Linked DNA regions of Homo sapiens. The protein of the gene in region 1 purifies or fractionates together with the protein of each later gene. This does not show direct contact. Each region holds a gene or a part of one and is shown on either strand. Other genes may lie near its edges.

Region 1 (7,872 bases):
AGGGCATGTGAAATGTTAAGTTACAGCAATAGATATTTTATTTGTATTTCATGTTAGTACTTTTTTGTTTTATATCACTTATAAAGGTACAGTGTACTCTTTGTCACAGCTCAGTTGGTAACCGCATTCCATTGAAAAGTTGGCCTTGTAAAATACAACTCTCATTTAATATTCATGCTTTTGTGCCTTTAAGAAAATATTTTTTGTCATTTTTTGTGTTACAGAACTATAATGTGATTCAAGGTGTTTATAGGCTTGTCATAAAAGGGTCATTTCTGTGTGTTACTTTCTTTTTATATAGCTATAGTATATTTAAACAATAATACTATCTTTTATAGGGGTTTGTCTATTTACCTATTCTTTACTCAGACATTGATGTAGACTTGTCAGATTATTCTGAGTATTGTTAACAGTGCCTTTTCGATGGAATCACACTTTTTGGCTGTCACCTTGTGCCATATACACACAAAATTTTGTGGAAGGCAGTTTTAACTTTCTGAAGAATATCTGTCAAAATTTAAGAAAACAAATGTATAAAATTCCATTTTTTCCAGTGTTTAGCATTTCTAGTAAGCAGTGAGGTTGTTTGACATACAGTGATGATGGCATTATTGATAAGCCATACATGAGACTGCAGATTATATTGAATCATATTAAATGTACAGAAATAAAATATTAGATTTATATCAAATTTTCCAATTTGAACCAGTGGGGAAAATCCCACAGAAATCAGTAAGTTTACATTTCAATTTCTATCTTATTTGACTAAGTGGAAAGAGATTCTTTAAAATGTATAACCTGCCATTATGTAATTTGGTTTCATTTTATTCTACCTGTTGTGTGAGTTTAGTATATTTAATTTACTTTTTGTTACTCTTTACATACTGTTTATTTTTGTTAGTTTTTAATTGAAGATGGACTGTTGAAATTGTATAGGACCAGTGTCTTATTAATATGATTAATATATTTAGAAGAGCCACGTGAAACCCATGACAAAATGAATGTGAATATTCTTTCTAAAAATTTAGAAAATGTTATCTTTTTGCATTTATTATGTAAAACTGTTTTACAGTATCAAAATTTTTCACTTAAAGAAAAAAAATGCCATGAAACATTTGAACTGATGAGCCACAGAACTTCAGTTGAAATTTTTTTCACTTTTTAGCATGCTAAATATACATCTGAGTTTAAATGTTCTGTTTAATGGCCATTCATAAATTCAAGCACTACCACTGGTCAGTTTTGTGTGATAGAATAAAAATATGTTACCTGCAGTGTAAGTACAGCACACTGTCAAATTCTTTTCCTTAAGGTGCACAGTAAATGTACAGATAGTTATAGGCCACTGTTTTGTAATGTAGTACATTTCTAATCTATTATTCCTAACCTATTATAACTGTTTGCAGAAAGAAAAGAATTTTTCTAATAATCTGTAAAATTATGCTAACTTCTACAAGTAGGCTTCTAAATAAAATTTTTAAAAAGAGCAAACGGTGATCAAGTGACTTTTAATACAATATGATGACTAAATTATTGCTAATTTGTTTTAATCCCCCCTTTTGTGGGGATAGGGATAGCTGCAAAGGATGGCAAAGGGCTTGAAAGGGATTCAACAGTGAGAATCCCTGAAGTATGCTTTGCTTGGTGCCTTATATTCATTCTTCTCGAATCCTCTATGAGAACCTTAGGTGGACGTTAGCCAGATTTTATACATGAAGATGCTGAGGCTCAGAGAGGTTGAAAGTCTCCAAAAGCTGCGGAGTAAGAGTGGTAGCCGACTCTTACTTTAAGAGTAAAAGCACAAGTTTGAATCTGTATCTCCGTGGTACACTTAAATAGAACTCTAATAGCACTTCACTTCTAAATGTCAGGAATATAATCCACTGCTTGAATCTATATTGAGTAATGTAACCCCTTTGTTATGAGTAGCACCACAAAAAAACCCTACTATTAAACATATACGAAATCCATATGAAAGGGTTTTTTTTTCCCCCCTCAGATCACCTATTAGTCCATACTGAGTCAACATCAGATGAGTTCCGAGACATCATTCCTCTCTGGTTTTCCCCCACCCTCCTTTCTTCCCATTCTTGCTCTCTGCTCAGGGTCCAGTTGCTTCTGGCTGTCATTTGGTTTGGTTTTATTAATTGGGGAGAAAAAGATGGGAGGGCCTGCCGGTTCCTCCTATCTTGTTCATAGCAATAAGGATTAAGGAAAACGGCCCCTCATTGTCCAACCTCGTGAAACATCTACAAGATCATTTTCTTGCTAATACTGGCATGCTTCGACTCTAGATGATGTATGTTGTGCCATTATGCTAGTTGAATCTTCTGCATCTCACAAAATATCACTTGTGGGAATAATAAACCAGGAGAGTGGTGACCTACCACAGTAATTTGGTGGGTGCGTCAGAGGCATCTGAACCAGAGCAACTCCAGTAATTTGGTGGGTGCGTCAGAGGCATCTGAACCAGAGCAACTCCATCTTGAATAGGAGCTGGGTAAAATGAGGCTAAGATCTAGGCTGCATTCCCAGATGATTAAGGCATTCTAAGTCACAGGATGAGATAGGAGGTTGGCACAAGATACAGGTCATAAAGACCTTGCTGATAAAACAGGTTGCAGTAAAGAAGCCAGCCAAAACCCACCAAAACCAAGATGGCCACGAGAGTGACCTCTGGTTGTCCTCACTGCTATACTCCCACCAGCACCAAAGACAGTTTACAAATGCCATGGCAATGTCAGGAAGTTACCCTATATGGCCTAAAGAGGGGAGGCATAAATAATCCACTCCTTGTTTAGCATATCATCAAGAAATAACCATAAAAATCGGCAACCAGCAGCCCTTGGGGCTGCTTTGCCTATGGAGTAACCATTCTTTTATTCCTCTTTCTTAATAAACTTGCTTTCACTTTATGGACTCGTCCTGAATTCTTTCTTGCATGAGATCCAAGAACCCTCTCTTGGGGTCTGGATTGGGACCCTTTTCCTCTAACAGGTGTAATATAAATATCTGTTGAGTGCTAACTATGCCAGGCACTATGCAAAGTGTTTAGTGAACATTCTCCACCTACTCAAAACCTCTTGAGATTTTTATTTTGTATATGTTATCTCCACTGGTTTTTTTGGCGGGGATTGTTTTGTTTTGAGACAAGGTCTCGCTCTGTCGCCCAGGCTGGAGTGCAGTGGTGCAATCTTGGCTCACTGCAACCTCCCTTCCCGAGTTCAAATTATTCTCATACCTCAGCCTCCAGAGTAGCTGGGATTACAAGCATGCACCACCATGCCCAGCTAATTTTTGTATTTTTAGTAGAGACGGGATTTTGCTATGTTGGCCATGCTGGTCTTGAACTCTCGGCCTCCTGTGATCTCCCACCTCGGCCTCCCAAAGTCCTGGAATTACAGCCATGAGCCACTGCGGCAGGCCCATTGTTTTTAAAGATGAGAAAAGCAGAGATCAAAGAGGTTACTTGGTGAATGCCACAGGTAAGGAAATGACAGAGCAAATCCAGGTCTGAATCCAAAGCCCATGCTCTCAAGTGCCTGTGTTTTAGGCCAGGCAAGGTGGCTCATGCCTGTAATCCTAAAACTTTGGAAGGCCAAGTTGGGAGGATCACTTGAGGCCAGGAATTCAAGATCAGCCTGGGCAACACAGGGAGACCCTGTCTCTACTAAAAGAGAAAATAACCAGGCGTAGTGAGGCACAAAGCGACTTGAAGGCTAAGACAGGAGGATCACGAGCTCAGGAATGCGGAGCTGCAGTAAGCTATGATCTCGCCACTGCACTCCAGCCTGGGCGGCAGAGTGAAACTTCATCTCTTAAAAAACAAAAAAAATGTTATAAGAGACAGTATTTTCTGTCTTTGGGTTATATACAATAATCCTTGGCCATGTGTTTTAAAGCATACTGTTGATCACCGACGTGATTAATGGATTTAAATCTGCACAGCGGCTCATGCCTGTAATCCCAACACTCTGAAAGGCCGTGGCAGGTGGATCATTCAGGTCATGAGTTCGAGACCAGCCTGGTCAACATGGTGACATCCCCATCTCTACTAAAAATACAAATATTGGCGGGGCACAGTGGCGTATGCCTGTAATCCCAGCTACTTGAGAGGCTGAGGCACGGGAATCGCTTGAGCCCGGGAGGCGGAGGTTGCAGTCAGCCGAGATTGCGCCACTGCACTCCAGCCTGGGCGACAGAGCGGGAGTCCATCTCAAAAAATAGAGACTTCGCATCATTTCTGCTTAATATATTTGTGGTGTCTAGAGTTTTATTGTGATACCTGAGTCTAGGAAATGTGGTAAAGCCTCTGCAGCAGACATAAAGCCTGCAATTCATGGCTGTGGCCAGGCTCTCCTCACCTGTCCTGCATCTACAAATTATTTCCGTTATGGTAAGGAGAGCAACTCGTGGGGAATGTGGACAGGAACATGCGTGAATCCAAGGCAGAGGTTTTGCCCCGGAAAAAGCAGCTTCTGGCAGGGGATGAAAGCCAGCAGAGTTCCAACCGGGGTGCCCTCTCCTTCACGCAGGCCCCACTACCGTGTTGACTTAGGAAGAAAGTTTCTCGGGAGACTAAGGGATTTGGGGGCAGCGGACGCCACTGGAGGGAGATGAATTCACCTAGGGAGCCGGGGAGGGGCTTAGGGTTGCCGCTCCAGGCACAGCTGCTGGAAATCCTAGTCTGTTTTTTCTGCCTTCGCGTACAACGGGCCAGCTCACCCCACCTGGCAAAGCTGCAGGGCTTTTCCACCAGGCGGACAGAAGGGCAGCCCTCTCGCCCAACCAAGAAGCCGTGCTACCCCGGCTTCGACTCCTGGCTTCCGGGTTTTCTCCCCGCCTATTCCGTTTCCGGCCGTTCCCACCCCTGTTTTCGGTCGGCCCGGGTGTTCTGCAAGCTGGTCAAAAAGGGGAAGCGGCCCAGATATGTTAAGTTCTATGGCCGCTGCAGGGTCTGTGAAGGCGGCGTTGCAGGTGGCCGAGGTGCTGGAAGCCATCGTGAGCTGCTGCGTGGGGCCCGAGGGACGGCAAGTTTTGTGTACGAAGCCCACTGGCGAGGTGCTTCTCAGCCGGAATGGAGGCCGCCTCCTGGAGGCGCTACACTTAGAGCATCCCATAGCCAGGTACCCGCGTCCCACACGCTAACCCGTAGCCGGGCACCCCAGGCAGCCTCTGTGGAGCTCTTGTCCCATCCTGAGGCGATGCGTACTTAGAAAGACTGACCTCGGGTGAAACCGCTGTATGCTCGGAATTAGAGCCCTGCCCAAGGGAACACTCCTGCACCCCAAATCTTACCAATTCTCAAGACCACTTCTCCCCACTCCACCCAACGGTGGAATCTTGGAATAGAGCAGAGTTTTTTCCAAGAAAGGAAAAAACTAAGGATGTATCCAAGGAACAATATTCTCATTTTATGCTTATGGCTGTGTAAACATGGTTTTAAGATGTGGGAAGCCAGCCTTCTGAAAATGAGTTGCTTTATTTCTTTTTTGTACAGGATGATAGTGGACTGTGTTTCCAGTCATCTCAAAAAAACAGGAGATGGTGCAAAAACATTTATTATCTTTCTTTGCCATTTGCTTAGAGGACTTCATGCAATCACAGACAGAGAAAAGGATCCTTTGATGTGTGAAAACATTCAAACCCATGGAAGGCATTGGAAAAATTGTTCTCGGTGGAAATTTATTTCCCAGGCTCTCCTAACGTTTCAGACACAAATATTAGACGGTATTATGGACCAGTACCTAAGTAGACACTTTTTGTCTATCTTTTCGTCTGCTAAAGAGAGAACATTGTGTAGGAGCTCTTTAGAGTTGCTCTTAGAAGCATACTTTTGTGGAAGAGTGGGAAGAAATAATCATAAATTTATTTCACAGTTGATGTGTGACTACTTTTTCAAGTGTATGACTTGTAAAAGTGGGATTGGTGTATTTGAGTTAGTGGATGACCATTTTGTAGAGTTGAATGTTGGTGTCACTGGCCTTCCTGTTTCAGATTCCAGGATCATAGCTGGTCTTGTGCTTCAGAAAGATTTTTCTGTGTACCGCCCAGCAGATGGTGACATGCGAATGGTGATAGTAACAGAAACCATTCAGCCTCTTTTTTCCACTTCTGGATCAGAGTTTATTCTAAATTCAGAAGCACAGTTTCAGACATCTCAATTTTGGATTATGGAAAAGACAAAAGCAATAATGAAACATCTACATAGTCAGAATGTAAAATTGCTCATATCTAGTGTGAAACAACCAGATTTAGTTAGTTATTATGCAGGGGTGAATGGCATATCAGTGGTTGAGTGTTTATCATCAGAAGAAGTTTCTCTTATCCGGAGGATCATTGGTCTTTCTCCATTTGTACCACCACAGGCCTTTTCGCAGTGTGAAATACCTAACACTGCTTTGGTGAAATTTTGTAAACCTCTTATCCTTAGATCCAAAAGATATGTTCATCTAGGCTTGATAAGCACATGTGCATTTATACCACACTCTATAGTTCTTTGTGGACCAGTGCATGGTCTCATTGAACAACATGAGGATGCTTTACATGGAGCACTTAAAATGCTTCGGCAATTATTTAAAGACCTTGATCTAAATTACATGACACAAACCAATGACCAAAATGGCACTTCAAGTCTTTTTATTTATAAGAACAGTGGAGAAAGTTATCAAGCACCAGATCCTGGTAATGGCTCAATACAAAGGCCTTATCAGGACACAGTTGCAGAGAACAAAGATGCATTGGAAAAAACTCAAACATATTTAAAAGTACATTCTAATTTGGTAATTCCAGATGTAGAATTAGAAACATATATTCCGTATTCAACCCCCACACTGACACCAACAGATACATTCCAAACAGTTGAAACGCTGACATGTTTGTCTTTGGAAAGAAACAGGCTAACTGATTATTATGAACCATTACTCAAGAACAATTCCACTGCTTATTCAACAAGGGGAAATAGAATAGAAATTTCTTACGAAAATTTACAGGTCACAAATATTACTAGAAAGGGAAGCATGTTACCAGTGAGCTGTAAGTTACCGAATATGGGTACTTCCCAGAGTTACCTTTCCTCATCTATGCCAGCTGGTTGTGTTTTGCCAGTAGGTGGTAATTTTGAGATCTTGTTACATTACTATCTTCTCAATTATGCCAAAAAATGCCATCAATCAGAAGAAACCATGGTTAGTATGATAATAGCTAATGCACTTTTAGGCATTCCCAAAGTCCTTTATAAATCTAAAACAGGAAAGTACAGCTTTCCACATACATATATAAGAGCTGTCCATGCACTGCAAACCAATCAACCCTTGGTAAGCAGTCAGACAGGTTTGGAATCAGTAATGGGTAAATACCAGCTACTAACTTCAGTTCTTCAGTGTTTGACAAAAATATTAACCATTGACATGGTAATCACTGTTAAGAGACACCCTCAGAAAGTTCACAATCAAGATTCAGAAGATGAACTATAACATCAGAAGTTTTTAATTAACCAAACTTTTCATCTAACTCAAGCCAAGTAAAGCAGTCATGTGACCACTGGTTCTAAAGTCAGTTCAGTCTACTTAGGAAAATAGCGTAACTTTAAAAGTCTTTAGAAGAAGCACACTAAGGTCACCAGACCAGATACAAATATTAAATTACTTTATGGAACAAATCTAGAGGGGAAGCCAAGATTTGGCTAAGTGTGTCTGTTTTTTCCCTATTTTATGCCTCTGTGTCTCAGCTCTGTGTTAGCCTATGTGTTTAGGGGAGGGTTTTTCTTTATAGCTCCTTTTTACTCTCCTGTATCTTTTTCACTCCAGCCCTCCTTCATCGTTACATGTTTAGTTCATAGAATCATTTAATCTCTGATTTGGGTGGGCTTAT
Region 2 (7,281 bases), on another chromosome or scaffold:
GTTAAATGACATGAGTGACAGCATCCAGTGGCTGATAAGCAGTAGAGCCGGCCTTCTCATGCAGAATCTGTTGTTCCCACCATGTGAAAGAAATTATACTATAAGATTTTGGGTTTTTTACTTAGATCACTTTTTTAAAGTATTCATTATTCTTGAATATTTCAGAAGTAAACAATATTCAAATAAGTGAAATTGTTTAGTGATTATATTCTATAAATTTTTTGAGATGGAAGTGTTTTTAGGCATTTTAGCTTTTTTTTTTTTTTTTTTTTTTTTTTTTGAGACAAAGTCTCGCTCTGTTGCCCAGGCTAGAGTGCAGTGGCGCAATCTCAGCTCACTGCTCACTGCAACCTCTGCCCCCCAGGTTCAAGCGATTCTCCTGCCTCAGCCTCCCAAGCAGCTGGGATTACAAGCACCTGCCACCACGCCCGGCTAGTTTTTGTATTTTTAGTAGAGACGGGGTTTCACCATGTTGGCCAGGCTGGTCTCGAACTCCTGACCTTAGGCAATGCCCGCCTCAGCCTCCTAAAATGCTGGGATTACAGGCATGAGCCACTACACCCGGCCGACATTTTAGACTTTCAAACTAAACCCCATTAGTTTGAAAGAAACCATCTTTTAAAGGTGAGTCTGAAAGAAAAGGAAACTAGCTGAAAGGGGTGAATGGCTCAGAATTATAGCTTTAGACTTTAGTATTGTTTCTTGTAGGAGTTTGATGTAGGTTTCTTTTCTTACATAACTTCCATTACGTTTGGAGATTTGGAAAATTCAAGTCACGCTAACTTCTTTATTCATATTTTTACTTGTGGTTTATAAAACTTCACTATTTTACATGTGCAGGTAGGAGGACAAAATACTTAATATATCAAATAATAGCAGTGAAATAAGCATGTCACTTTATTTTGGCATAATTCAGTTAGCTATTTTATAAATAGTTGCCAGACAAAAAAATAATTCTTACATATTCACTATGTAGCGTCCCGAAGGAATTCAACTACACAACTATTTGGATAGCAGCATTTATTTTAAATTGAAAATAATAATGCCTTTAAAAAAAAATAGCCTGTCACATCACCCGTAATCCAAATTAGTGAAGTTCTTAATTTGGGGTCTCTAAACCCTGAATGGGCTTTGAGGGTTTTCTGAATTCCTTGAAAATGTATGCAAAATTGTATGTGCCCTTTTCTGGGAAGACAGTACAAAATGACTTCTAAAAGATTTTCAAAGAGATCTGTAAACAAAAATAACTTCTACTTTACTTTATTTGTATATCATTTTAATAGCAGAATATAACTTAGCAGTTTAGGAATATTCATCTTATTTATCCTGTATTTCATATTTTAAATTATATGCTTGTGGGGCTTTTATGTTGGCTAGGAATAAATATACTTTTAAATGGTTGTTTGCTCCACTTTTGCTTATACAACTTGTATTTTCTAATCTTTAAAAAATAGGAACACAGCCTATTGGATCCCTAGGCTCAATATGTCCTAATAGTTATGGAAGTGTGAAAGATGTGTGCACTGCAAAATTTGGCTCCAAACATTTTTTTCATCTTATTCCTAATGAAGCAACAATCTGCAGCTTGCTTCTCTGCAACAGAAATGACACTGCCTGGGATGAGCTGAAGGTAGGTAATGAACTTTGAATTCCATATGCAGAGGCTGAGGGAGGAATTAGTCACTCAATAGTTATTATGATTTTTTTTTCGTAGCTTCCCTAGGTAGTATAGAAAGCAAAAATTAAAATGATTGATGCAAAGTCACAAGTAAGCTAATTTAAATGCCTGTGGCATTATAATAAATTTGGCATGTGTTGCCATTTATTATTTCTACTATTTACTAGAAACCTAAAAGGCCCTTGACATGCGAACTTTTCTAAGAAATTAGCTTGAATTGTGTAGTCTTTGATGGTAATGTGTATGAATAATTCACTTGGAAAAATGAGTTCCCCAGTCAATACCCATCATCCACTTCTTAGCAGAGTTTCCTGTTCTCTGCCAGCAATAATACATGCAACTTTTATACAAGGGAAATGATAATCTATGGGATTGGTCACAAGTTTTAAAGATTCATGTATGCTCAAGGATATATCCTTAGTAAATGTTAAAGGTCTGTGTGATTTTTTATTTATTATTGCTGGGATGTAACTGTATTATTTCCAAATCCATTCAAAATAAATTTATTATTTAGACTGAAATGATTTTTTTAGTGGAAGTGTCAGCAAACCTTGTTGACCCAGATATTTTGAGGCCATATATTCGTCTCAGTTTGAAGAGCTAAGTGTATATGAAAGAAAATACTAATCTGGCTCCGTGAAAACAAACTTCTGACTGAAGTATCTTCCCTTAATCTCTAAACCTTACTATTCAGAATGTATTAATCACATGACAACCTTGGCACCACACAAGTTTTGTTCTTTTGTAATTAAAATCACACTCTCTGTATTCACTATGATGCTTTGAGAGCATGATTTTTTGTGTGTTAATATGATGTGAACGTCTGATTCTGATGATTTGGGTTTTTTCTTAGCTCACGTGTCAGACGGCACTGCATGTCCTGCAGTTAACACTCAAGGAACCATGGGCTTTGTTGGGAGGTGGCTGTACTGAAACTCATTTGGCTGCATATATCAGACACAAGGTATGTAAGATAATCCTCTTCGGATTACCTGAATTCTCAGCAACTTTTGTTTTCTGAGATAATAAGCCAAAATCATAATATCCTATAGTCTTTTTGTTAGTTTTAACTTTTAGGTTCAGGGGTGCATGTATAGGTTTGTTATACAGGTAAACTTGTAGCCTTTAACACTGAATTTTTCAGTAGTCTAAATAAAGTAGATAATCAAAAACACTTGAGGGAAATAACAAGGTAAATATAAGGTAATATCCTTATTACAATGATTATTATAAAAATATTTAAGCAAGCGATCACGTTCTTTGAGTATTGTCTACATGTTCTGCATGTTGAAGCTAGCATTCTGTTATTGGGAGTTCTCTTAGAGATCTCAACTGCTGCAATACAGTAATAATTGATGTTCACAAACAAAAGGGCCAAGTTTCTACAGAATACTTCAGTATCTTCTAGAGCATCAAGAAAAGTTTCATTTATTTAAGCAATTCACATATTAGATTCTATTATAATTTTAAAATTGGTATTTATGTATGTTATTTATTAATTATACTAAATAGAATTTTTTGATTGGTCTAGGAAACTCCATTTCCTGACAGCTCTCAGATAAGTTTAGTGCATTGTTGTTCTGATTATTTCATAAGTACTGGCCTACTTTATTTGAAAATGGATAGAAAAAGGTATAGGTGTTTTCCAGATATTAGCAATCGATTCATTGGGTAAACATGCCCTGTCCTTCCCCAAATAACTTAGAATCTCTTTGAAGATAAAGCACATTCATGAAAAGTTATCAGAATATACATTATGGAAAACAAAATTTGTGCCAATCTATTGGTGCTGAATGGACAATAATGTATTCTGAAATGGAATTGATAAACTAGAGAAAGTTTTTTAGAGGAAGGAGGTGTCTTGAGTAGGAAAGTAGTCACTGTTTTTAAGCAGTTAAGATATGGATTTTTTAACCCATCATTCAGTTATTAGTTTGCTAATACAGACATGTTGCTTAACAAAGATATATTCTGAGAAATGCATCATTAGACAATATTGTTGTGCAAACAATATAGAGTGTACTTGCACAAACCTACATGGTAGAGCCTACCACACTCCTAAGCTATGTGGTATAGCCTATTGCTCCTAGGCTACAAACCCTTACAGCATATTACTGTACTGAATACTGTAGGTAATTGTAACACAATGGTATTTATGTATCTAAACATATCAACACACAGAAAAGGTTAGTAAAAATATGGCCTTATAATCTTATGGGACCACTGTTGTATATGCAGTCTATCATTGACTGAAGTGTTGGTATGTGGTGCATGGCTATATATTAATTTTTCTTTTTATCATGGAATTTCTAGGATAAACATTTTTAAATAGTGGAACCAGAAGACTGTTTAAGGTCTTATTACCTTTTCATTAATTTAAAGAGAAGAATATTCATTTTTAAAACATTGATATGAAAATTTACATCATGATTTCCAAATAAAAATATGTGCATTCCCATTTTAAGCAAATCTCAAACATTTTGCAGAGATAAATAAGTACTCCATTTGGGACATCAGTCTTCAGGAACTTCCTCCTGTGTGCAGAAAAACCTGTAATACATGTATTATGCCTAGTCCTTCATGTATTAAGGAGGCACTACCAAGCCTCATTCAGAATAAGCTGATGGTGGGGTTATTCTGATTCACTCATTCTGGTAACATGACTGGTAGTATATACATTTTTAATACATTTTTACTATAACCAACCTAGTTAAGGGTTTGCAACCCGGCCGGCTGACCCATACAAGCCCGTTAGCATTGTGCCAGACCCCAAATTAAATGAAAGTAAGTAATTACTTTAGGAATAAGATTTTGATTTCAGTATCTTATTTTTCTGAAACATTTTATATTAATTGCTTTGTATGTGTTTTCAATGTTTTTATTACTCTTTAGACTCACAACGACCCAGAAAGCATTCTCAAAGATGATGAATGTACTCAAACAGAACTTCAATTAATTGCTGAAGCATTTTGCAGTGCCCTAGAATCTGTTGTTGGCTCTTTAGAACATGATGGAGGTGAAATTCTCACTGACATGAAGTATGGACACCTTTGGTCAGTTCAGGCAGATTCTCCCTGTGTTGCTAACTGGCCAGATTTGCTTTCACAGTGTGGCTGTGGATTATACAATAGCCAGGAAGAACTCAACTGGTCTTTCTTAAGAAGCACACGTCGTCCATTTGTGCCACAAAGCTGCCTTCCACATGAAGCTGTGGGCTCAGCCAGCAACCTGACCTTGGACTGTTTGACTGCAAAGCTTAGTGGCCTACAGGTGGCTGTAGAGACAGCCAATTTGATTTTGGATCTTTCATATGTTATTGAAGATAAAAACTAAGAGAATAGCATGTTCGTATTACAAGAGAAACAAATAAACTAGTCTGTTGGCAATTGAGAAAAATTGTGAGTGTATTTGTTTTCTCCCAAAGCCCTGTTCTACATATTTGGACAAATGACTCATAAAATTATAGATACACTTATTTAGGAAAAAAGGTGATTCGTGAATGGAAATGCCATGAAACAATAAAAATATGAAGCATTATTTATTTAAAAATATTATAGTTATCTTAGGGATTCTATACTGGCTGCTGTACATTGTTCTAAATTTTTGTTATGTTGGCATCATTTTGAGAGCAAACAAATAAAAAAGACTCCTAATCCATGCTCTAGTTTGGATATACATATTTTAGATATTTTCCAGTTAGCAGTAATTACATATGCTTAAAGTATAAAACTAGATCTCAAAGTGTCACAAAACATTCAGTATATATTGCTCAATCAAAAGAAGTATTCAAACTGCACATTTAGTAAAATTTCACTTTTCTCCATGCCCTTTATCTCAAGCTATATTCTTCAGTGGTTAGGTAATTGAGTAGAACCTGGTTTGCCTGCAATTTGTAGTTTATATCACAACTCCACATTTTTGTTATTTTGGGGAAATGTTTGCTTTTGGGGGGAAAAAGTAGATTTATATAGTAACCAAGGCTAAAGCAACATTGTAATGTCTTCATTTTTAAAGTGGGAAGAAGGACTGGTTTGTTTTACACTGGGGTTTCTCAACTTTGGCATTATTGACATTCTGAGCCCCATAATTCTTTGTTGTACGGAGGCTGCCCTGTGCATTACAGCTTACTGAGCAGCATCCCTGGCCTCTGCACACTAGATGCCAGTAGCACCCTCCTGTTGTGACAACCAAAAATGTTTCCAGACATTGCCAAATGTCCCCCGAAGAGCAAAACTGTTGTTGGTTGAGAACCATAGACTGATAGAAAAAGGAAGGACAATAAGGAGTATTCTAGCAGGACTTCAGAAAGCAGCATAAAGGGAAGGGGAAGTTATTTCTCTAGTCAATAGTATGAAAAAGAAAGTAGAAAATCTCCCATGTTCAAAGTAGAGACATTATGTTTCACCAAGGGATGTAGTTTGAATTTTATGCAAATATAAGATGTATTGATAAATTGAAGAAGAAATATAGAAGGCAGCCACATGAATAAGCATGGAGCTATAACAAATGTTGTATTAAACTTTAGGAAAATATTTTGGAAATTTTTGGGAAACAAACCAACCTAATAGTCAATGATCAGATCTATAGCCATGATAAAGAGAAATAGAATTGTTAAACAATTTCCTCTGATATTCTTGTAATCAAAAAGAATTTTTACTCTGAGCCAAAGGAAAAAACTAGCAATACAAGCAGCAATGCCATCCATATATGTTAGGTATCAGCCCCACCTGAAGTCTCATAAAATATTTATCAAAAGTTTTACTCCTTTTATTATTACAATCAAATAGAAGGGCAGTGTGGTAGGCAGCCTCTAAGGTGGCCCCACCTCCTAGTTTCAGACCTTGCATAATTTCCTCCCCTTGAGCATGGGCTAGACTTAGTGACTCCTTTATGTCTCCCATTTCCCAGCTTTGTGGACAGAATGTTATGGTGATGGTTATGGTTATGCCTTATCCATAATTTTATGCTGTGAGTAGAAGGCAGATAACTTTTCTCTAGTTTCATGGGTCTACAGATGGAAAGCAACTGTGTTCCAGGAACTGTACTTAAAGAACTACCTCCTGAGGAAGCCTGGGGTGATTCCAGTTATGATATCACCCTGACTTGATTCCAATTATGAGATTCTGAACTTTGAGCTGATGTTGTAATGCAAAAGTGAAACTTTTGAGGATCTGAGGAGTAGGGGGGACGTATTTTGCATGTGGTAGGCAGCCTCTAAGATGGTTCCCAATAATCTCACTTCCTGGTGGTTCACTCTCTGGGTGTAGGTGGGACCTAATGACTAGCTTCTAATGAATAGAATACAGCAGAAGGGACAGGATATCACTTCTGATATTTGGTGGTAAAAAGATGAGTTTGTCTCTTGATGCCTTCTCTCTCAATGGAAGCCAGCTGTCATGTTGGGAACTGCCCCCTGGGGAGGCCCACATAGCAAGGGTTGAGGGAGGCTTCTAGCCAACAGCTCAAAAGGAACTGAATCGTACCAATAACCACAAGAGTGAATTTGGAAGCAGGTTCTCCCCAGTGGAACCTTGAGTTGAGTATAGCCCTACCACTGGAGCCACACGAGAGACCCTGATGCAAAAAAGCCAGCTAAGCTACTC

Evidence for each region.
Region 2: the proteins of BBS10 (region 1) and MKKS purify together in Homo sapiens (co-immunoprecipitation; 2 studies listed by IntAct, with this or other methods). This does not show direct contact.

The regions. Positions count from the first base shown.
Region 1 is NC_000012.12:76,345,416-76,353,287, reverse strand, and holds the start of BBS10 (BBSome complex assembly protein BBS10), read left to right. Parts: upstream 1-4,872; 5' UTR 4,873-4,929; coding exon 4,930-5,126; intron 5,127-5,500; coding exon 5,501-7,475; 3' UTR 7,476-7,872. UniProt on the Homo sapiens protein: Probable molecular chaperone that assists the folding of proteins upon ATP hydrolysis. Plays a role in the assembly of BBSome, a complex involved in ciliogenesis regulating transports vesicles to the cilia. Involved in adipogenic differentiation.
Region 2 is NC_000020.11:10,402,977-10,410,257, reverse strand, and holds part of MKKS (molecular chaperone MKKS), read left to right. Parts: intron 1-1,454; coding exon 1,455-1,630; intron 1,631-2,531; coding exon 2,532-2,642; intron 2,643-4,570; coding exon 4,571-5,011; 3' UTR 5,012-7,281. UniProt on the Homo sapiens protein: Probable molecular chaperone that assists the folding of proteins upon ATP hydrolysis. Plays a role in the assembly of BBSome, a complex involved in ciliogenesis regulating transports vesicles to the cilia.